Linked DNA regions of Homo sapiens: region 1 is linked to region 2. Evidence: fine-mapped expression QTL. A gene starts in region 2. The other region holds a variant in brackets. All regions are shown on one strand. Distances are from middle to middle.

Region 1 (10,075 bases), 31 kb before region 2:
TGGATGCAGTGGTGCCAACTTAGCTCACTGCAACCTCCGCCTTCAAGGTTCAAGCGATTCTGCTGCCTCAGCCTCCCAAGTAGCTGGGACTACCGGAGGGCGCCACCATGCCCCACTAATTTTTGTATTTTTAGTAGAGACGGGGTTTCATCATGTTGGCCAAGCTGGTCTTGAACTCCTGACCTCATGATCCGCCCGCCTCAGCTTCCCTAAGTTCTGGGATTACAAGCGTGAGCCACCGCGCTCAGCTGCATGACCTTTTAACTTGCCTCATACACTCAATATACTCAAGGTATACCTTCCAAAGTGAAAAATTATGGCACGTTGCAGTCCTGACCACTAATTGAGAACTTTGATGCATTGGATTTTGGAGACCTCATTTTATCACCTGGTCCTTTTACTTTATGACTTGTCATGCTGCCATCTTTTGATGGGATTGAGATCAAGATAATAATTCCCAACTGGTCAGGAATATTGTGCCCCTTTGTTTTTATATCCAGATGCAATAGAGCCTCTGACACACCACTACTATGGTTCTTAGGATTTGGAACAAAATGCTTCTTTCTTTGACAAAATAAATGTTTTCTTTAAAGAATTCTTGATTGATCCTGGACCATTGTAGAAACTGAAGTCTTACCAATGCAAAAAAATATGACAACATGAGCTGCTTATCATGAAATAAGTGTTTTCCAGTTAACTATCCTGCTTCATCCGCAGGTAGGAATAATAGAATCTATACCTATGTCTTCATGGGAATTTCTCTATGGCCAGTTGATTAGTGAGGGAAAAATTGAGCCTGATTTACAGAAGTCGCTGTACAACATCACAGCAACAGCCAAAAGTAGATTGCTTAGGCATTATAACCTACTTGAATGCAATTTTAAAAGAAATTCAGCCTATGTAATCAGTTGTCCACGATGTCTAGAAGGAGAGATATTACTGATTTATATGTGGCAGCTAAAAATTTGTCTAGGTAATTAGGGACTTGGGGCCAGGACTGGTGGCTCACACTTGTAATCCCAGAACTTTGGGAGGACAAGACAGGCGGATTGTCTGAGGTCAGGAGTTCGAAACCAGCCTGGCTAACATGGTGAAACTCCATCTTTACTAAAAATACAAAAATTAGCCAGGTGTGGTGGTGTGTGCCTGTAGTCCCAGCTACTCGAGAGGCTGAGGCGGGAGAATCTCTTGAATCCAGGAGGCAGAAGTTGCAGTGAGCCAAGATTGCACCACTGCACTCCAGCCTGGGCAACAAAGCGAAACTCCGTCTCAAAAAAAAAAAAAAAAAGATAATTAGGGACTTGGAAGGACAAAGATTGAAGGATTGGTGACAATGAGTTTTGGGGAAAAATACGTAGATGAACTACAGAAAATGAGCCAGAGTGTAAGAATATTTGTGCTTAATATGAATACTCACCAAACTATCATCAGGAAGGTTATCAAATAAATATGAAGGTATGAAACAACTTCTTTCACCAGGCACTACATTGCTTGCTCAGAAGGCTAATAAACAGCAACATTGGTGGTAGCAGTAGAGAATACATATAGGTTTAGCAACATGTTGGACTTTACCACTGTCCCTTACCAAAGCCTATTTAGCTGTCAAGACTATTAGGTGTCCAACACACAAGCAACAAGGACCAAGGCTAAGCACAAAATAACATATCCTGGGTGAAAAAAACAGTCACCTTTTGTCAGACTTGTTGATTTTACTGGAGCTCCTCTATGATAAAGGCAACAAGGAATGTTGTAAATGGAATCTAGCTTTATATCCTTGAATTACATTTGCTTGACCTGACATCATGTTTCTCTGATCACCACTCTCCGTGGGTACATTGAATGCTTTATACATACTGCCATAATATCCTGTTCTACATCCTTCTATTCAAAGAACTTGTTGTATAACAAATGAGTAGATATTCACTGCACTCACCTGGTCCACCATTTATCCTATCACTAACCAAAATTATTATTATTATAGAATGGCGAATATTTTATTAAAGACTCAATCACAGTGCCAGCTGGAGACAATGGCTTATAAGGTTGTACTCATGCCAGAGGATGTGGTGGTGTATCCTCTGAACTAGTAACTAAGTATAAGCTTGTCTGGTGTCTCCCATATAAAAAATACAACAATCTTTGATCTTTGTTATGAATGTTGAAGTGACTCCTTTTGTCATTACATCTAATGATCCACTCCAAATATTTGTCTCTTGTCTCTGAGATTCTAGGTTTTTGCAGAATTAGTACCCAAGGGGAGAGTCTCAACAGTATTTCATTTTACGATCCATCCTTTGTTAGAGGATGAAAGACTTCTAACTGGCCTTTTAGGTTGCCTGAGACCTTTAGACAAACAGTCAAAAATTTAAAATTTAAAATGTGGCACACTGTTGCATGGGGTAGTAAATCTTGACCTTAAAACTGGTATTTGTAAGAAAAACAGAAAGAATTCAGGGATCCCCTTTGATGGCTCTTAATTCTATACAGTCCTATAAATATTCATGAAGACTAGCCAGGCGTGGTGGTGCACACCTGTAATTCCAGCTACTCCAGAGGCTGAGGAAGAGAATGACTTGAACCTGGGAGGCGGAGGTTGCAGTGAGCTGAGATCATGCCACTTCACTCCAGCCTGGGTGACAGAGCAAGACTCTGTCTCAAAAAAAAAAAAAAAAAAAAGAAAAAATTAATGAAGACTAATTGCCAAAACTTGGAAGCAACCAAGATGTCCTTCAATAGGTGATTACATAAGCAAACTGTGGTATATTCATACAGTGGAATATTATTCAGTGCTAAAAGGAAAAAACTATCAAGCCACAAAAAGATACAGAAAAAACAAATATATTTTGCTAAGTGAAAGAAGCCAGTCTGAAAAGGGTACATACTGTGATTTCAACTATATGACATTCTGCAAAAGGCCAAACTATAAAGACAGTAAAAAGATCAGTGGTTATCTTTGCAGATGCCACCGTCGCTGGGAGCCCTGTACTATCAGCCATGGTCAAACCCATCGTGTTTTTTGACATCGCCGTCGACGCCAAGCCCTCGGGCCGCATCTCCATCAAACTGTTTGCAGACAAGATTCCAAAGACAGCAGAAAAGTTTCATGCTCTGAGCACTGGAGAGAAAGGATTTTGTTATAAGGGTTCCTGCTTTCACAGAATTATTCCAAGGTTTATGTGTCGGGGTGGTGACTTCACACACCATAATGGCACTGGTGGAGAAATTTCATGATGAGAACCTCATCCGAAAGCATACAGGTTCTGGCATCTTGTCCATGGCAAATGCTGGACCCAACACAAATGGTTCCCAGTTTTTCATCTGCACTGCCAAGACTGAGTGTTTGGATGGCAAGCATGTGGCCTTTGGCAAGGTGAAAGAACACATGAATATTGTGGAAGCCATGGAGCACTTTGGGTACAGGAATGGCAAGACCAGCAAGAAGATCACTATTGCTGACTGTGGACAATTCTAATGAGTTTGACTTGTGTTTTATTTTAACCACCAGACCCATTCCTTATGTAGCTCAGGAGAGCACCCCTCCACCACATTTGCTTGCAATATCCTAGAATCTTTGTGCTCTTGCTGCAGTTCCCTTTGGGTTCCATGTTTCCCTTGTTCCCTTCCGTACTAGCTGGATTGCAGAGTTGAGTTAAGTTTATGATTATGAAATAAAAACCAAGTAACAACAACAAAAAAAAAAAGATCAGTGGTTGCCAGGGGTTTGGGGATGGGTAGGGAGATAAATAGTTCTGAAACAGGCGATTTTTAGGGGATTGAACATAGTTTGGTAATAATGTAATGATGGGTACATGACATTATGCATTTTGCAAAACTCATAGGCCTGTACCACACAAAGAGTGAACCCTAATGTAAACTGGGGGTGGGATGAAGGTGAGAGTATGTGAGAACTCTGTACTTTCTGCTCGATCTTTCCGTAAAGCTAAAACAGCTCAAAAAATAAAGTCTATTATTTTTTTAAATGAAAGAAATTAACAATGACCATAGCACGCTCACACAAATAGATTATCGAGGACATTTCTCTGTCAGGAATGAATATTGGGTCATCTCACAAGGTAAAACCCTGACTAGCAGAGGTGTTAGCTGAGGGCACATGGCTGTAGATGCCAACAGTGACCTGATGGCCACTTGCAGAAGGGAGAGCCTTGACATCCAAACACATTGTTTCTCTTGTATTGTCCTGTGCATACTTATGTATCTTAACAAGTTTCCTTCTTTCCTCTTCATTTATCCCTCTTTTTAAAACAGGGCTTATTGAGGGTGATTAACTTAATTTTTAAATGATATGTGGCAGAATGTCAAGAGAGTATAGTGGAGAACTTCGTAAGGAATGGACATAACCCAGAATTCTTAGACTCAGAGTACATGCTGTGATTGAGAATTTTTTATTGTTTCATTGTTCAAGAGATTGTAGGTACATGTTCAATTATTAGAGAAATAGTTGCACTCTGTTAGAAGGTAGCTTGGGTCTTTTGTGTTTACTTTCAAAAGGGAAAGTTTATATTGATATTGAACAAGTTAAAGCATGCATATTTATTATTTGATGTTTGTTTCTGTGTTTGAGGAATTCCTCAGCCTATCAGTTTTGACGAAAACAAGAAACCACCTCCTGCTTTAGAAGCTAAAATGCCAAATGCTTGCTTTCTCAGCCTCCTTTGCAGCTAGGCTACAAGCATATGATTTAGGTTTTGCCAATCTGTTTGCCAGTGCTGAATTTCGACTTTGGAATTAATAAAAAAAGAAGCAGATTCAGTTATGCTTTCTCTTGTTTCTGGTGGAGGCCATGTAGCAGCTGCTACAATATCTGTTGCATAGGGAACAAGTGGGAGTGGTGCTGGTGGCTTTGCAGTTAGCCTAGGATTGAGCAATTGCTGCAACTGTTGCTCTCTGCAGCTTCAGCGTTACTTCTTACTGGTGGTGACAGTGGTTTCCTCCCTGGATGAGTTCTACAGCATGGTTTGGGGTACATTTCCTGGCTGCCTAGCTTTGATCTGGCTTTCTAGCCTTCTCAACAGTTCTACAAGTTCCCCACTATTTCTGTGGTAAACCTATTTATTGTTAATGTCAGCCATAATTGGCTTCTGTG[G/T]TTTATATTTTTTAAAATTCCAAGATATACAAATGTAACAGATAGCTCAACAAACATATGTCTTTTTAAATTAAGATATATTCTGTGTCACATGAAGTACAATGGACAAAATTCAACAAATTGAATTGCGCTAAAGACCAAAGATATATTAAGCCTGGCTAGTCTTAAAAATGTAACTGGATACAGCCAGGCATGGTGGCTCATGCCTATAATCCCAGCACTTTGGGATCCTGAGGCGGGCAGATCACCTGAAGTCAGGAGTTTGAGACCAGCCTGGCCAGCATGGTGAAACCCCATCTCTACTAAAAATACAAAAATTAGCTGGGCGTGGTGGTATGCCCCTGTAATCCCAGCTACTCAGGAGGCTGAGGCAGGAGAATAACTTGAACCTGGGAGGCAGAGGTTGCAGTGAGCCGAGATCATGCCAATGCACTCCAGCCTTGGCAACAGAGGGAGAATTTGTTTCAAAATAAAAAAATAAAAATGTAACTGGATAGACCTCAGGTTCTTGAATAAGCAGAAAATAATTTAGGTAAAAACCAAATAATAAACCAACATTCTAAGAGGTTTAGTATTTGGAGGCCCAAATGTCTTAGCTAAAAGTGTTCATTCTAAACTCACAGGAAAAGTGAAATATGAAAATATATAGAAAAATCTTAGGCAGTATTTTTCAATTTTAAGCAACAACTATTTACAGGTTTTTCAATAGGCATTACATTAAAAATGAAATATATAGTTAATAAATATGAAAACTGTGGATATAATCAACACATTTATTTTACTTCTTGAAGTGTTAACATGTGCTGTCTCAAATATCAACAGTGTACACGTGGGAAAAAACATTTTACATAGATTTTCTGCTACAGAAAACAGCCTCTCATTAGATATCCCAAGTTTTTTCATTTGGAACACACGCCCATTCCCCAGTATACTAGGGGTAATAATAATTTATAAAGTTTAATTACTTTTTACTACTAGAAAACTAATTTTATGTTTGGCACAAATTTCTGAAATGACATTCCACTGCAAAGAATAATACCTATATATGGCCAGAATTACTTTTTTTCTGTAACATTAAGATAATACTGGTCAGCCTGAGCAACAAAGTGAGACCTCATCTCTACAAAAAATAAATAAATTAGATGGGTGTGGTGGTGATGAGGGTCTGTAGTCCCAGATACTCAAGAGGCTGAGGTGGGAGGATCCCTTGAGCCTAGGAGGTCGCAGTTGCAGTGAACTATGATCACACCACTGCCCTCCAGCCTGGGTAACAGAGCAAGATCCTGTCTCCAAAAAAAAAAAAAAAAAAAAAAAAGATAATATTGGTATAATTCAGGGTTTTTGCCTCAATCCCCATGCTTCTTCATTTGACCCTCCCTGACTCCCTGATGAATTTTAGTTTGAAGTTTTGCTCTAGTCCAGAAGTTAATTTAAAACATCTTAATAAAATTTCCACCTGCCTAGATATTTCTTGTTTGTTACACTTTAGTCCATGATTTCTACTGCCATTTACATTACCCCAAAAATATGACCTGCTGAATTTCTGCTGTCATGAATTGACTAACATATTTTGGGCCTAAAACCTTTACATTTAGAATCTTTTTGTTTGGTATTTGAAAATAATGTATGTCCTCCATTTATTGGTCAAAAGCAGTGCCTATTTATTTCTACGTTTAATCAGAGAGACTTTGTAATAGTTATTTAATATTATTTATGTTCATTCATTTGTTGTATATAATGAGGTTAATTGCTATGATATTTTTATGTCGTTAATATAATAAAAAATATGTCATCTTTTCTCTTCCAATGAGTCTTTGGGTTATTAATTTTTAACTCAGGTATCAAGCTTGTAAAATGTTTAATGGCTTATAATAATGTCTAACACATAGTATCCACTGAGTTCTGGTAACTCCAGTTTATCAAATTCTCTTTTTTTATACCATTCTCCAAATGCAATGCTATTTGGTTTTATTTTTATTTTTTAAAAATGTGCTGCCTGATTTGAGTCTCTAAAAGTGTGAAATGTTCAGTATTTTCCAAATGTATTTGAACATGGAGTGTTATATTTACTAAAAAGTTAACAAGCAAGTATTCCCCTAAACACTCTAGCAAATACTACTAGTACAGACAAATTACGATCTAACATTATAGTACATTTTAATTTATTAGGTTAATTTTGGTTGCAAACAATAAAAAGCAAAATTCAAACTGGCTTGTATAATAGATTTTGAACAATAGTATAGGCTCAAGATAGTTTAATGCAGAAGTTCAATAATGACACAAAATAAATGTTTCTTGTCTTCCCTGTTTCTTCACTCTACCTTAAGTGGTATAGATTGAATGTATCCCCCCAAAATTTGTATATTTAAATCTAATCCCTAGTGTGATGATGATATTTGGCAGTGGGTCTTCGGGGGGTGATTAGGTCATGAGGACAGAGCCCTCATGAATGGGATTATTGCTCTTATAAAAGAGACCTTAGAGAACTTCCTTGTCCCTTCCACCATGTGAGGACACAGCAAAAAGACAGCGGTCTATGAAACAGGAAACAAGTCCTCACTAGACCCTGAATCTGTTGACAACTAGATCTTGGACTTCCTGGCCTCTAGAACTGTAAGAAATAAATTTATGTTGTTCATAAACCATCCAGGCTGTGATATTCTGGTATAGCAATCTGAAAGGACTAAGACATTAGGTCTCAGTTTTATTCTATGGCTTAAAATATCATGTCATGAGTAGACAACTTCCAATCCTAGTACCTTGTGCTTCCTCTGCTGCATTTGGAAAGAAGGCATTTCCCCCTTCAATCGTGGAATGAAAAAGGTGTACTTCATTCTGATTTGATTAGCAGAAGGCATATGCTCTTTCATGCACCAATTACAATGACCAAGAATTGGGCATGGGACTCATGTCACTTAAACATTGTGAAGCTGAGAAATTCATTATTTGGTTAGGAGTGTGTGAGATCAGGGAACACTGAATGCTTGAGGTACCACCACGATGTCCACTGCAGGTATTTCCATTTCAGTAAACATTTCCATTAAGATAATGCTAGAACAAAATCAGAGGAGTAGATCTTGGTGTCCCCAACTTTTGTTGACCTAACAAAGTGAAGTTGCTTCAACTGGACACTTCTGAACCACATTTATGCCCATATGTTCAGTCCAAATTTATTATAAGCAATTTTCAGGTCCATATGTTTAGGATATTTCATTTGTTTGGTTATGCATTATATGTATACATGTTTTTAACATACACACACCTCTACATATATTTTGCAGGCCTTTACACAAAAGTGTTTTCCCTAAAGGGAGAAGAGAAAAGTTGAATGCAGAAGTAAAAAAAAAAAAATTCATTTGCATTTGTAGTATTTGTATCTAAATATTTTATATTACAGACGTATTAAGATTTTTATCATTTTAAACACTACTTTAAAACAGGGAGATGGTTTACCTTCAAAAAATTTAGCTCTCAACTCAAAGTTATCAAAGTATATCCTAGATGTAGTTTGCTTGTCAGGCTTCTACATGAAAATTTAAAAGGCTCCTGCATTTCAGAATGAGCCTAACATATGTAATTGCACTCATCCACTATGTCTACATTGCCAACCAAATACTGACAGAGAGAGCTATAGAGTGCCATAGAGAGCTGGCAGCTTTTCTGTTTGCATTAGCTTCTACTTTCTTCTTCATCTTTCCTCTATGTCTGACACATTTCATGTTACTGTTTTTAAATGTTCCCTTAACTACAGAGCTAATGTGCTTATATCTGTCAGGGGTCTCATGTGAACCTCTAAATATTTAAAGATTCATTAGCTCCCTGGAGGGCCACCATGATTTCCAAAACAAGTCACAATACCTAAAGATCTAATTGTACAATTTCCCTCAGAAATAGCCTTGAGGAAGAAGTCACATCACTCAGCAATGAGTATTACAATTATTCACAGCAGTTTTCATGGTACTATATAACATCCAATTTACAGAATTAAAGGTAATGTAATTTGAAAGAAAAATACCTGGTTTTAAGGAATGAATGGCCATGTCAACTATTGGAAGCATCTTTGAATTGGAGCCTCTATGTTCAGGTTTCACCAGGTTTATGTTTTTAATTAATATCCTATTCAGCTTTCTGTAATTTCCACTGAGGTTTTCTAGAACAAGACAAGTCAGAAATTGATCTTTAATTATAAGCTAAGAGCAAACTGCCAAAGAACTGAGACAAATTTTGAAGAAAGAGGTCTATCAGGACTAACTATTTTAAGAGAATAAAGACTAATCAGACACACACACATATGCACAAAAAGAGGGAGAGAGAGCACAAAAATCCTACGAAATACATTTTAAAAAATTAATTTTTTTAAGAAGAAGCATTTGATCTGCCAAAGGGAAAACTTAGCAGTTTGGAGATCTGACAGTGCTAATCTCAGGGCAAGAAAATAACAAAATAAGACACCAAAGAATTACCTAAACTGTGAAAGATGAAGTTTTCAGAGTTCTAACAGAGAATTGGGATACTAAAGTACAAAGTTTAAGAGGTGTAATATATTAATGTTTAATTTATATCCCAAATACTTAAAAACTATGTTTCATTGTTATACATATTTATTTTATTATAAAGATAATGAATGCAGTAGGGTTAGATTTAAATAACTCATTGGTTTTAAAATGAGAAACGAAGGTCTGGCTTTTTACTACCTACAGTCTTACCATCAAAGTTAGCTATTGTTAATAATTTCTTGTCCATTCTTGTATGTGTTATGGTTTCTTTCTTAGAAAGAAGTACACTATACTAGTATACATACTATTTATTCGTGAACTTTGCATTTGTCATGTAATCATATGTCTTAGTGGTCATTTCATAATAGATGTCTCTCTTTCCCATGCTGTCAGTGGTGACTGCATGAGGCATTGTACAGACGTACCAGTAATTACTTACTCTGTGTCATATTGATGGTTATTCAGATTGTTTTCA
Region 2 (10,075 bases):
TACAGGGGCACACCACCATGCCCAGCTAATTTTTGTATTTTTAGTAAAGACGGGGTTTCGTCATGTTGACCAGGCTGGTCTCGAACTCCTGCAACTCAGGTAATTTGCCTGCCTCGGCCTCCCAAAGTGTATTTTTTTAAATTTTCTAACAAATAAAAATTTAAGGCTTTTGTGTAAGTAAAGAGTATCTATAACAGAAAATGAATTGCTATCTAGAATATATAAAAACTTCCTACAAATAAATAATACAAACAAAAAAATTCAATTAAAAAATAGAGGAAATGACAGGCAATCATACAGAGACTATACAAACTGTCAATAAACACTTGAAAAAATGCTCAATATCATTAATAATCAGGGAATTACAGACAAAAACAAGATGAATACTTTACACCTAGCTGGTTGAAAAAAAATTAAAGACGAATGGTATATACTGTTGGGAATGTTGCAGGGAATTAGGTATTCTCAAAAACAGTGGAGTATAAAATGATAAAGTAAATTTGAGAGCAATTTGCTTGTATCTATCAAATTTTTAAATTTGCCAGTTCCCTGTGAGCCAGCCAGTTCCCTGTGAGCCAGTCAATTCACTTCCCAAAGAAACTGCTGAAACTGTGCATAAAGTTGTGCATTTGTTGTAAATTGTTTTAATCACAAAACATTTTGCAAAAGCCAACATGATTGCAGAAGTACGGTTAACACTTATTATACTGCATTCATTCAATATCATTCTCTGCAGTGGCTAAACAGAATGAGCTAGATCTCTTTCCATGACAAAGAAAAAAAGCTCTTCAAGACAAGTAGAAAAATTAAGTTGTGGCCAGGCGCGGTGGCTCATGCCTGTAATCCCAGCACTTTGGGAGGCCGAGCGGGATGGATCATGAGGTCAGGAGATGGAGATCATCCTGGCAAACATGGTGAAACCCCGTCTCTACTAAAATGCAAAAAACTAGCCAGGTGTGGTGGTGCACGCCTGTAGTACCAGCTACTTGGGAGGCTGAGGCAAGGGAATTGCTTGAACCCGAGAGGTGGAGGTTGCAGTGAGCTGAGATCATGCCACTGCACTCCAGCCTGGCAACACAGCAAAACTCCATCTCAAAAAAAAAAAAAAATCAAGTTGTAAAACAATATATATTATGTAGTTCCATTAAATTATTATTATTATTTTTTGAGACAGAGTCACTGTGTCACCCAGGCTGGAGTGCAGTGGCCTGACCTTGGCTCACTGCAACCTTTGCTTCCTGGGTTCAAGCAATTCTTAGGTCCCAGCCTCCTGAGTAGCTGGGACTACAGGTATATGCCACCACACCTGGCTAATTTTTGTATTTTTAGTAGAAACGAGGTTTCGCCACGTTACCCAGGCTGGTCTCGCACTCCTCACCTCAAGCAATCCACCCACCTTGGCCTCCCAAAGTGCTGGGATTATAGGCATGAGCTACTGTGCCCAACCTAAATTAAAATTTATATGTATAAATCTGTCAACATATGTACATCTGTGTGAAGATATGAGAATGCAGTAATGCAAGACATTCCCACAAAGTTATTAACACTAGTTACCTCTGGGACGAAGAGTGAAATTAGGGGTCAGGATAGGTAAGAATTTTCACATTTTACTTTATGTACTAATATATGTCTTAAATCATTTGCGCTGAGAATATATTCATATAGTATTTATGTACTTTCTAAGAAAAAGAAAAAGAGGTATTCAAAAGAAGGAATTAATATGAATGAATACAAGCTAAGAATGAGTTTGTTTGCATGGCACAGTGAGGCATCTCATCTAATTATGGTCTAGAATGCTTCTAGGTAGAAAGGGGAATTAAAATTTTACAGGAAAAATGGATCTAAATTAAAGTGAAATTTGGAACTAGAAAGAAGAGTTAAGGTTTCATCCTGTAGCTTTAGTATTACCTAGGTTAGTTAAGATGCTAGAAAGGGCCATAAAACCTCAACACCACCCCTGTGCCGTCACATTTGACCTTAGTAACCTAACGGGGGGTATGGTAAGAACCAAAATGTGACAAATCCACAAAACATCACCTAAAGTTCTCCTTCAGCTTGTCAAGTTTATTCAAAGTTGACTTTGGTTTTTTACAGTAGACCTATCAGAAGAGGTCAGAAAAGTAGGATTAGTTTCCAAAGGCAGCTTTTTCTTTTCTTTTTTAAGAAACAGGGTCTCCCTCTGTCATCTCAACTAGAGTGCAGTGGTATAGTTACAGTACACTGCAGCCTCAAACTCCTGTGCTCAAGAGATCCTCCCAAGTAGCTAGCACTACAGGTATTCACCCACATGCCCAGCTAATTTTTATTTTATTTTTTGTAGAGACAGGGGTCTTGCAATATTGCCAAGGCTGGTTTTGAACTCCTGACCTCAAGCAACCCTCCCACCTCAACCTCCCAAAGTGCTGGGATTACAGGCATGAGCCACCACACCAGCCAAGCAGCTTTATAAGGAAAGAATTGCACACGTCCCTCTACTTAGAAGAAGGTAGTTGGGCCCTTAGCAGGCATTTTGAATTTTACGGATTTCTTTCCATTACAGAACCACCGCAAGCAGAAGCTATATCAATCTCATAATTAGAAAGAACTTTTCAGATCATCTTCCTTCCAGTGGCTCTCCATTTTTCTCAGATGAAATCCCACTTCCTCACCTTTGTTTAAAGGCCCTTTGTGGTGTCTTCTCACAGCAATGCCTCGGCCCCTACCTTGTCCCTCCTTCACTGATTCTGCCACAAAAGCAAACTGTCCCAGTGCTGTTTCCACATCCCAGCAAGGATGGTAGGCATTCCCATGGGCATTTACCACTGATGACACTATCATGCATATGGCAAAGAAGGCTGTTCCCCTCTTTGCTAATCCTGCCTCCTATCCTCTTCTTAATAACCATGGAATAGCAGAGGTCAGGCTTGTACTTTTCTTAAGACTGTACTAATGGCTGGGTCATTTGGGAAAGGAAGTTGAATGCAAGAAAGGGAAATATAACTGCCACTAGCAGAGGCTATTTTGAGAGTCCACAGGCTTCAGCCCTCCTCAAAATCCATCATAGGGCTTCTTGTCGGCTTCACTCCTGGCCTGCAGCCATTGGCGGGGCGGTTTACTTCCTCGTGTGGCTTCTGTACATATTTATTCCTTTAAGTTCAATTCAATTGCTGAAAGGTTTCAAGAGAGAAAAAAACTTCTTGTAGTCCATGTCTCACCTTAGATGAATTAACCCCTTTGAGCCTGTTTCCTCTTTTGTAAAATGAGAAAAATAACAGCTAGTATATACGGGTTATTGTGAATATTAAATGAGTAACTATATGTAAAGCTTTTAGAACAGTTTCTACCAGTTCTGGATAAATGTTAATGAATTCTGGATAAGTTCTGGATAAATATTAAGTTCTGGATAAATGTTAGTTATTAATACCCACATCACATTATTGAACTTAATGCCGCATGTCCATTACCTTATACTTCCGCAGTTGGGCCTTTTGGCACAGGCAAAAAATTTATATTTTTCACTAATAAATTATATCTGGTGGCTTTGAATCATTATTCTAAACCGGTGGAATTTTTTCAGTAGAGTCTATCATCCAACATGTAGATTATTATCTTCAATTTAGTTTGGGATACCACCTGAGTTCTCCCTCACTGTAAATATTGATTTTATTTATTTAACAAATTGGTGAAGGGCCTCTTATGTGCCACGTTCCTGAATGCATGTGTGTGTATGTTGTATACTCATGAGTGTTTAAGGAGAGATAGAACTGTTTCATCTCAAAGGCGCATATAGTTTTTGATAAGGGAAGTATGTTGAGCACACATAATATAAACATTTAAATATTCGGAGATGGGGCAAGGTAAAGAAAGGATCCTGGATATGGGCTGACTTACTTTGAGCAAAGTGCTCCATAAGGATCTAGCCTGGAAGATCCTTGGAAGGATCTACGTTGGTATAGTTTTTAATTAGAGAAATTTATCTTGCAGAAATACATACTAGATAGGTTTTTATTTTTTAATCTTACTCCTTCAAATGTACAAATATTTATTAAATACATCACACCTTAAGGGCATGAACAGGGTGAGGTTAGCTTTGTTTAACCAAAACAGGGCAGCCCATGAAGCTTAAAAAAAAATCAAATATAGGACAAGTCACAAGAAGGCCTATTTTAAGGAGTGAGTAGTAAACTAAGAGCTCATCCAGACAAAAAAATATTTGGTAGCTTTAAAACTATTTCACATTTATTTGTAGTAAGGGTTCTACTTGGAAGATGCAAGCCTTGTGGCTAGATAACTATAAAATAAATTCTTGTGAGTTAATAGACTTTCAGCCTTTCAGAGAAATTAAAGCACATAATGGAAGAAGAAATACTCATGATTCTCAGTGGTGATGTGGAAGAGAAGAGAGCATTTTTGGCAGCCAAAGGGCCTACACAAAGCAACATATCCAGGAAGGACAAAGGGCTTGAACCTGTCCTACCCTAAACAGGAAGCATTTCAGGAGAGGACTGAGCAGGAGATATAGACTGTTGTGACTGTGGCTTTACTACATCAAAGGCTGCAGTGGATCTCAATAATGCAGAATGTTTCCTTTTGTAACTCATAGTGAATATGACTGGACAAGGAAATTATTTTGTAATTTGTTTCCTGAAAGATAAAGGAGTTAGAACATAGGATCTTTCATTGATTCTACAGAATCTTAAGACTCCTTCAGGGATGGCAGTCATTCCTACCGTGCTGAACATCATGTTGTCACGGTCAGAATCAGAACTAAATTGATTAAGGGTCTGAAACAGTTTGGCAACTCTTGGGCACTTATGCTGATAAGAAAAGTGATGAGACAGGGTAATGAAAAGAGGCTGCAAGAAATGACCATTCGTGCATTCAGCCAACATTTAGGCCACCCTCCTGTATTCCAGGCACTGTACATGGCACTGAGTATGCAAAGCAAAAGGAGTCATGGTCTACTGGCGGGAGCCTTCTCAGTGGAGAAAAGATCAACAAGAAAAGTGCCTGCTGGAGACCTCTCCTAGGGCATAAACCAATATAGAGGTGGGGCAGCTACGTCAGCCTGGGGTGTCCTTAGGCAGAACAGAAAGTGAGAATCAGAGCAGTATCTCATTTCTGAACACCTGGATTGTAGCTTTCCCTTGACTGTCAAAGGAGGTGGTTTTAAAAATCAAGCCAAACAGGTTTCCATCTTTTAGGAAGACCCTGGAACGTGCCAGTTGATTCTGACCATTTCTCATGAACAGAAACACCTAGGAAGGGAGAACTGGTGAGTTTCAAGAGGAGGAAGTCCCTCAAAAGGGGCTGTGTTTCGTAAACGGCGCCCCAAAAGGGCTGAACTACTTCGATCTGGAGGAAAAAGACTCAGGCACTGAGGGAAGGGGAGGGTGCACGTCTGGAGTAATTTTAAGGCCTTTTCCGTGTTATGTGATGTGGCAATAAGGAAAGATTTGTTCGTTTTATTATTTTTTTAATTTTTAAAGATTTTCTTTTCCCCCCTTTTCCCCCTCCCAGCCACTCCGGTTTGGGTTTGCCACAAGACTATAATTCCTTTAGAAAGTGGAGTCGAATTCATAAAAGTGATGGGGGGAGGGGCGCGGAGAGGGAAGGCTGGGAGCCCCAGGGAGTCTTCACGACCGCTCAGCTCCCGGCGCGAGTGGAGGTCGGTGTGGGGAGAAGCGGCTCCCGCCCGGGATGGCTAATACTCTGCGAGCCCCGGCAGCCCGCGGCCGGCGGGGTGACTAGGCGGCGGGCGCGGAGGGTCTGCGGCGGGCGGGCGGCGCTGCAGCAGCCTGGGCACGGCTGCCGCCGCCCGCGGGCGCGAGTGTGCGCGGGTGTGGAAGGCCGGCGTGCGAGCCGTGAGGGGTGTGCGCGCGTGAGCCGGAGCGGGGCTCGCCCCTCGCCGGCGCCCGCCGCCCAGCCGGTGATTGCTCTCTGGCTGTCCCCGGCACCTCGGCCCCCACGGCCGTTGGTCCGGGCGGGTGAGGGAGAAAGTGAGACTTGGTGTCATCACCATCCATTGTCAGAAGGGGAGGAAATTGGAATCCAGCAGCGGCGAGCAGCAGCTGGGCGGTCACATCTGGGAATGCAAAGCCGACCTCCCCCTCCTCCTCCTCCTCCCCCTCCTCCTCCTCCTCTTCTCTCACCCAGGATCACTTCCGAAACCACTTCGCCTTCAGCCCCTGCCTCGGCCAGAGGTTTCATTTTTAACTGAATATTTACGAAAGCTGGAAGCGTGCGAGGGGGGTGGGGTGGGGTGGAAATAGCGGCTGCTTCTTTTCCAGGGATTTATTTAATGGGGATGTGTTCAAGGCAAGAGCGAATTCAGAAGGATATCGACGTCGTGATCCAGAAGTCCAGAGCTGAGAAGGACTGCCTGTTTGCAGGTGAGTTCTTGCTTTTCCAGAACCTCGGACCCAGCGCCCCCTTCCCAGTTTTCTGACCGCGACGTCTGTGGCTGGGGGTGGGGTGGAGGGTTGCACGTCCCCATTCTGGGGTTCATTTGGCAACAGCTGCTGCAACGAGCGCGGGAGCCAAAAGGGGGAGGGGGCGCCAGCCTCTCCCCTTCCCCTCCCCCACCGCCAAGTCTGAGGCAGCCACCAGCTTTGAGGGCAGAGCCCGCGTGGCCGGAGCGGGGGTCTAGGCGAAGGGGCAGTGCGTGGTATTTCCAGCCCCGCGTAGTGCCCGAAGCCTCCAAGCACGCTTCCTGGGTTCCAGCAGCGGCGGCAGAGCGGGGTTGGTTTGCGCAATGGGCTGAGCGGCGGCGGCCGGGAATGGAGCCTGCTGCGCTGCGCTGCGCTTGTAAGCTGCGCCCGGCGCCGAGGACCCCCGGGGGGCAGCGCTCGGCCCATCTCCGGCCCCTTCGGCTCCCTCTAGTCCCCTCCGACTGGCAAAGAGAAGGGATTCCTCGGATTCCCAAGGCACCCAGCGCCCCTGCCTGGGGGTCGCCTTTCGTCCATTTTGCTCCCCCGGGATTTTGCTTTCGCTACCGCGAGCCCGGCTGAGGCTGCTTCCGGCCTCCCCTATCGGGAAATTCCCGCTGTTGCCATGGCACCCGGCACTTGTTGCGGGGGGCGGCCTCCCGCTGCACCCAGTCGGGGGCGCGCCGCATCCCCTCGGACGCGGCGCAGAGGGACCTCGCCGCCCTCTAGCCCTTGCCTTCTGCCCGGCCAGGCCTCCCCTGACACCACCGAATGTGGGGCTCAAGTCCTGATCGGGGTTAAAACAAATCCACTCCAGGGGTAGCTTTTGACGGGACTTTCTGTTTCAGATTTCAGATACTCTGACTCCACCTTTACTTTTACCTACGTTGGCGGCCCCAGAAGGTATTTATGTGTATAGAGTTGCTTCATTTCCTGTTCACACTCTTGTGTTTCCTTTGTTCTTAGCGTGTTCCGTGTTCGGGTATTTTGGTTGCTTGTTTGTTTGATTATTGTGGCTTTTCTTTACCTGCTACCCAAGCCTGACGTCCCTCGGTTTTAAATAGCAGGAGGAGGGGAATCAATGTTTGATTCAGGTGTTTCGAGGACCACGCCACAGGCAATGAGCAGAACTCTTCATGTTGAAACTGTTCTGCTACAGTACTAGATTGCTCTCAGGCGATTTGGGGTTGATACAGGCACGCCGGTGCAAAACTGGAATACTGGATATGAAGTGAAATGTATAAAAGACATAAAATGTCACAAAATAGTTTGATCAGAAGTGTTGATTTTCCTGGTGAGTTGGGGCTGCGTGTTTCCATGTTTTCTGAAGGTTTACATAAACATGCAGCCTGCCAATTCTCTGTACATTTTTTTTTCAATGAGTGGTATTTCGGTTTTCACGTATAGAAATTGGAGACTTATATGTAGCTGGAGTGGATGACTTCTTTCTTTTGGGGGAAGAATGAGAGATGCACATTTCGTTAGTAAATTGTGAACAACTTGAAACAAACCCAAATCCAATTTTGAATTTAGGAAGTAGAGTTAAAATGAAAGGTAGCCATTCAAATACTATGCCTTGCTACCTTCACTTGTTGAGTTAGGATTTTCTTCCTTTTAGCCCTTTAGGGACACAGTAGTTTAAAAGAGCAGTAGCCACATATGAGAAGTACCAGATTTAGCTTAGAGGGAATTCCTTAGACCAGCCCTGCTGTTAGGACTTGACATTCAATATTGTTTGATCACATTCCAAAATATATCTTAGCTAATGGAAACATTTATAAACATATAAATTGCAAAAGAAGCTTTCTTGTGTACATACATTTTTAAAAGCTTGAAATTGATGTGAACTTTTAAAAACACGTAGGATCTGTATTACATTATACATCTCAAAACATTTAAAGTGAATATCATTCCAGTATATGCAATATACCTAAGCCCCAGAATTAGCACATTGATTTACTAGTTGAAAATATAACAGTGAATCACCAAACTTAAGTGTATACTTTTTGGGAGAGAATGAAATTACAGTATTTCTTAATTTACTGTAATGTCATCTTTGTAATTATGAATTAATAATTCAATGAGAGGAGACTTGGTTGATTAAATTAACGCTGGTCCTACACATTATATCTAAAGGATCTTCGTATATGACTAATATCCTCTTGGATTATTTTAACAGTTAAAATATACAAAGTGGCCCATTAAAAACAGAGTTGACTTTTCACTATTGCTGTTTTTCTGGTGAGACATGTGGACAGGAAGGACAGGTGGGCTTTTCAAGTAACTAGCTTTCTGATTTTTAATAAGATACCTCAGTTCTTTTGGCCTCAGTTTACTTATCTGTACAATCAAAGGGTAAATCATATGCTTAATCACTAAGATCTGTTAGATACTGCAGTTAAGATTCTTTATCAGCAAATTATTGGACTCTAGTGTTAACATAGCTAGAGGTGGAAAAGGGAGCAAGGCCAGGTGTTGGGATGAATAATTAAGCGAGATAACATCAGTTTTCACCATAGGAAGAAGTACCATGGTTGCTCTTAAAGTAAGAGATGTTTCCTATTTTATGTAATTTTATTAAAGGATAGTGTTTTCTTTTGTCACTGATTTAAATGTACCTGGCTGTTTCTCAGCCATTTGGCTAAGATCGAGCACAAGTGTACCTGAGCCTTTTATATCTAATCTAATGTAGACCAGCCTGTTAAAAGAGAAAGACAATTGGTTAAACTGCTGATGTGTTGCTTTGTCTTCTCAAAAGCTTGTTCTAAAATACAATATGTAAAAAGTTGTTACAGTGTAGTAACCGTAGATAATCCCTTTATGATTTGTACCTAATGGCGAATACCTTTTATTTTCTGAAAATAACGTATTTGTTTTCATTACCGACATTATAAACCAATATTTATTAATCTATTTCTTATCCTGACATTTCAGTCAGACTCTTAAAATAATCTTGCTGTGTTTTGATTTAATGTGCTTATCAACTTGTAATATTGAATTAATAGTATCATTTTAGGTGAACTAGACTTTATTGAAGGAGGTGGGAGCCTTATGGAGAGAGAGTATATGATTATCTCTATTTGTATTTAACTACCATTTCATCTAACCATTAAGAACATATTTCAAGAATAATTTTAATTCAAGTTGTAGATAAAACTTACTATACCGTTTTCTTTTTGATGCTTTCCAAGAATGAGATACATGGTATTTTAAAGACAAAGATTGATCTTACATGTTACTATTAAAAAAAAATAATAATTTTGTTCTACATTTATACTTTTAATTTTTCTGTGGATAATAAGAAATGCCAAGAGGCGATTGTGTCCATGCTGGCAAGTGGCCTAATAAATTGTCCTTTTATTTGGTGGTCCTCAGAGTGGCAGTTAACATCTTGCTATTCTGCCTTGTGGACTTGAGGTGGAAAGGTTCATGGAATTATATCCTTGCTTTTGGATGTGCAAACTGAGGCTCAGAGAGTTTAAGACACATAGTCACTTTCATCAATTAAATGTTGAAGCTGCCATGTAAACCTGTTCCATCACACTCCTGAGACCTCCTTCTTCTCCATTAGTGTTTTCAAGCTTTTTGAGCATGCAGACACTTTACCATCAAAAAATTATGTAGAGACATAATTGAGAGTTACAGTTTAAAGAAAAACAAGGTGTAAT

Evidence for each region. PIP is the estimated chance that this variant, and not a neighbour inherited with it, causes the effect.
Region 1: its variant is fine-mapped to the expression of PARP8 in blood mononuclear cells (TOPMed, PIP above 0.99). The same link has a PIP of 0.9 or more in monocytes and whole blood.

The regions. Positions count from the first base shown.
Region 1 is chr5:50,630,136-50,640,210 of GRCh38, forward strand. It overlaps the pseudogene LOC202319. Among named protein-coding and RNA genes, the nearest start is that of PARP8, 31 kb to the right of the region's middle. The variant G/T (reference allele first, on the strand shown) is at 5,105.
Region 2 is chr5:50,660,816-50,670,890 of GRCh38, forward strand. PARP8 (poly(ADP-ribose) polymerase family member 8) reads left to right here and starts at 5,822. Exons shown (of 26, transcript NM_024615.4): 1 at 5,822-6,371; 2 at 7,256-7,310. The coding sequence starts at 6,281. RefSeq lists silencers at 5,665-5,814, 5,865-5,924, 6,617-6,946 and enhancers at 6,097-7,009, 6,445-7,644.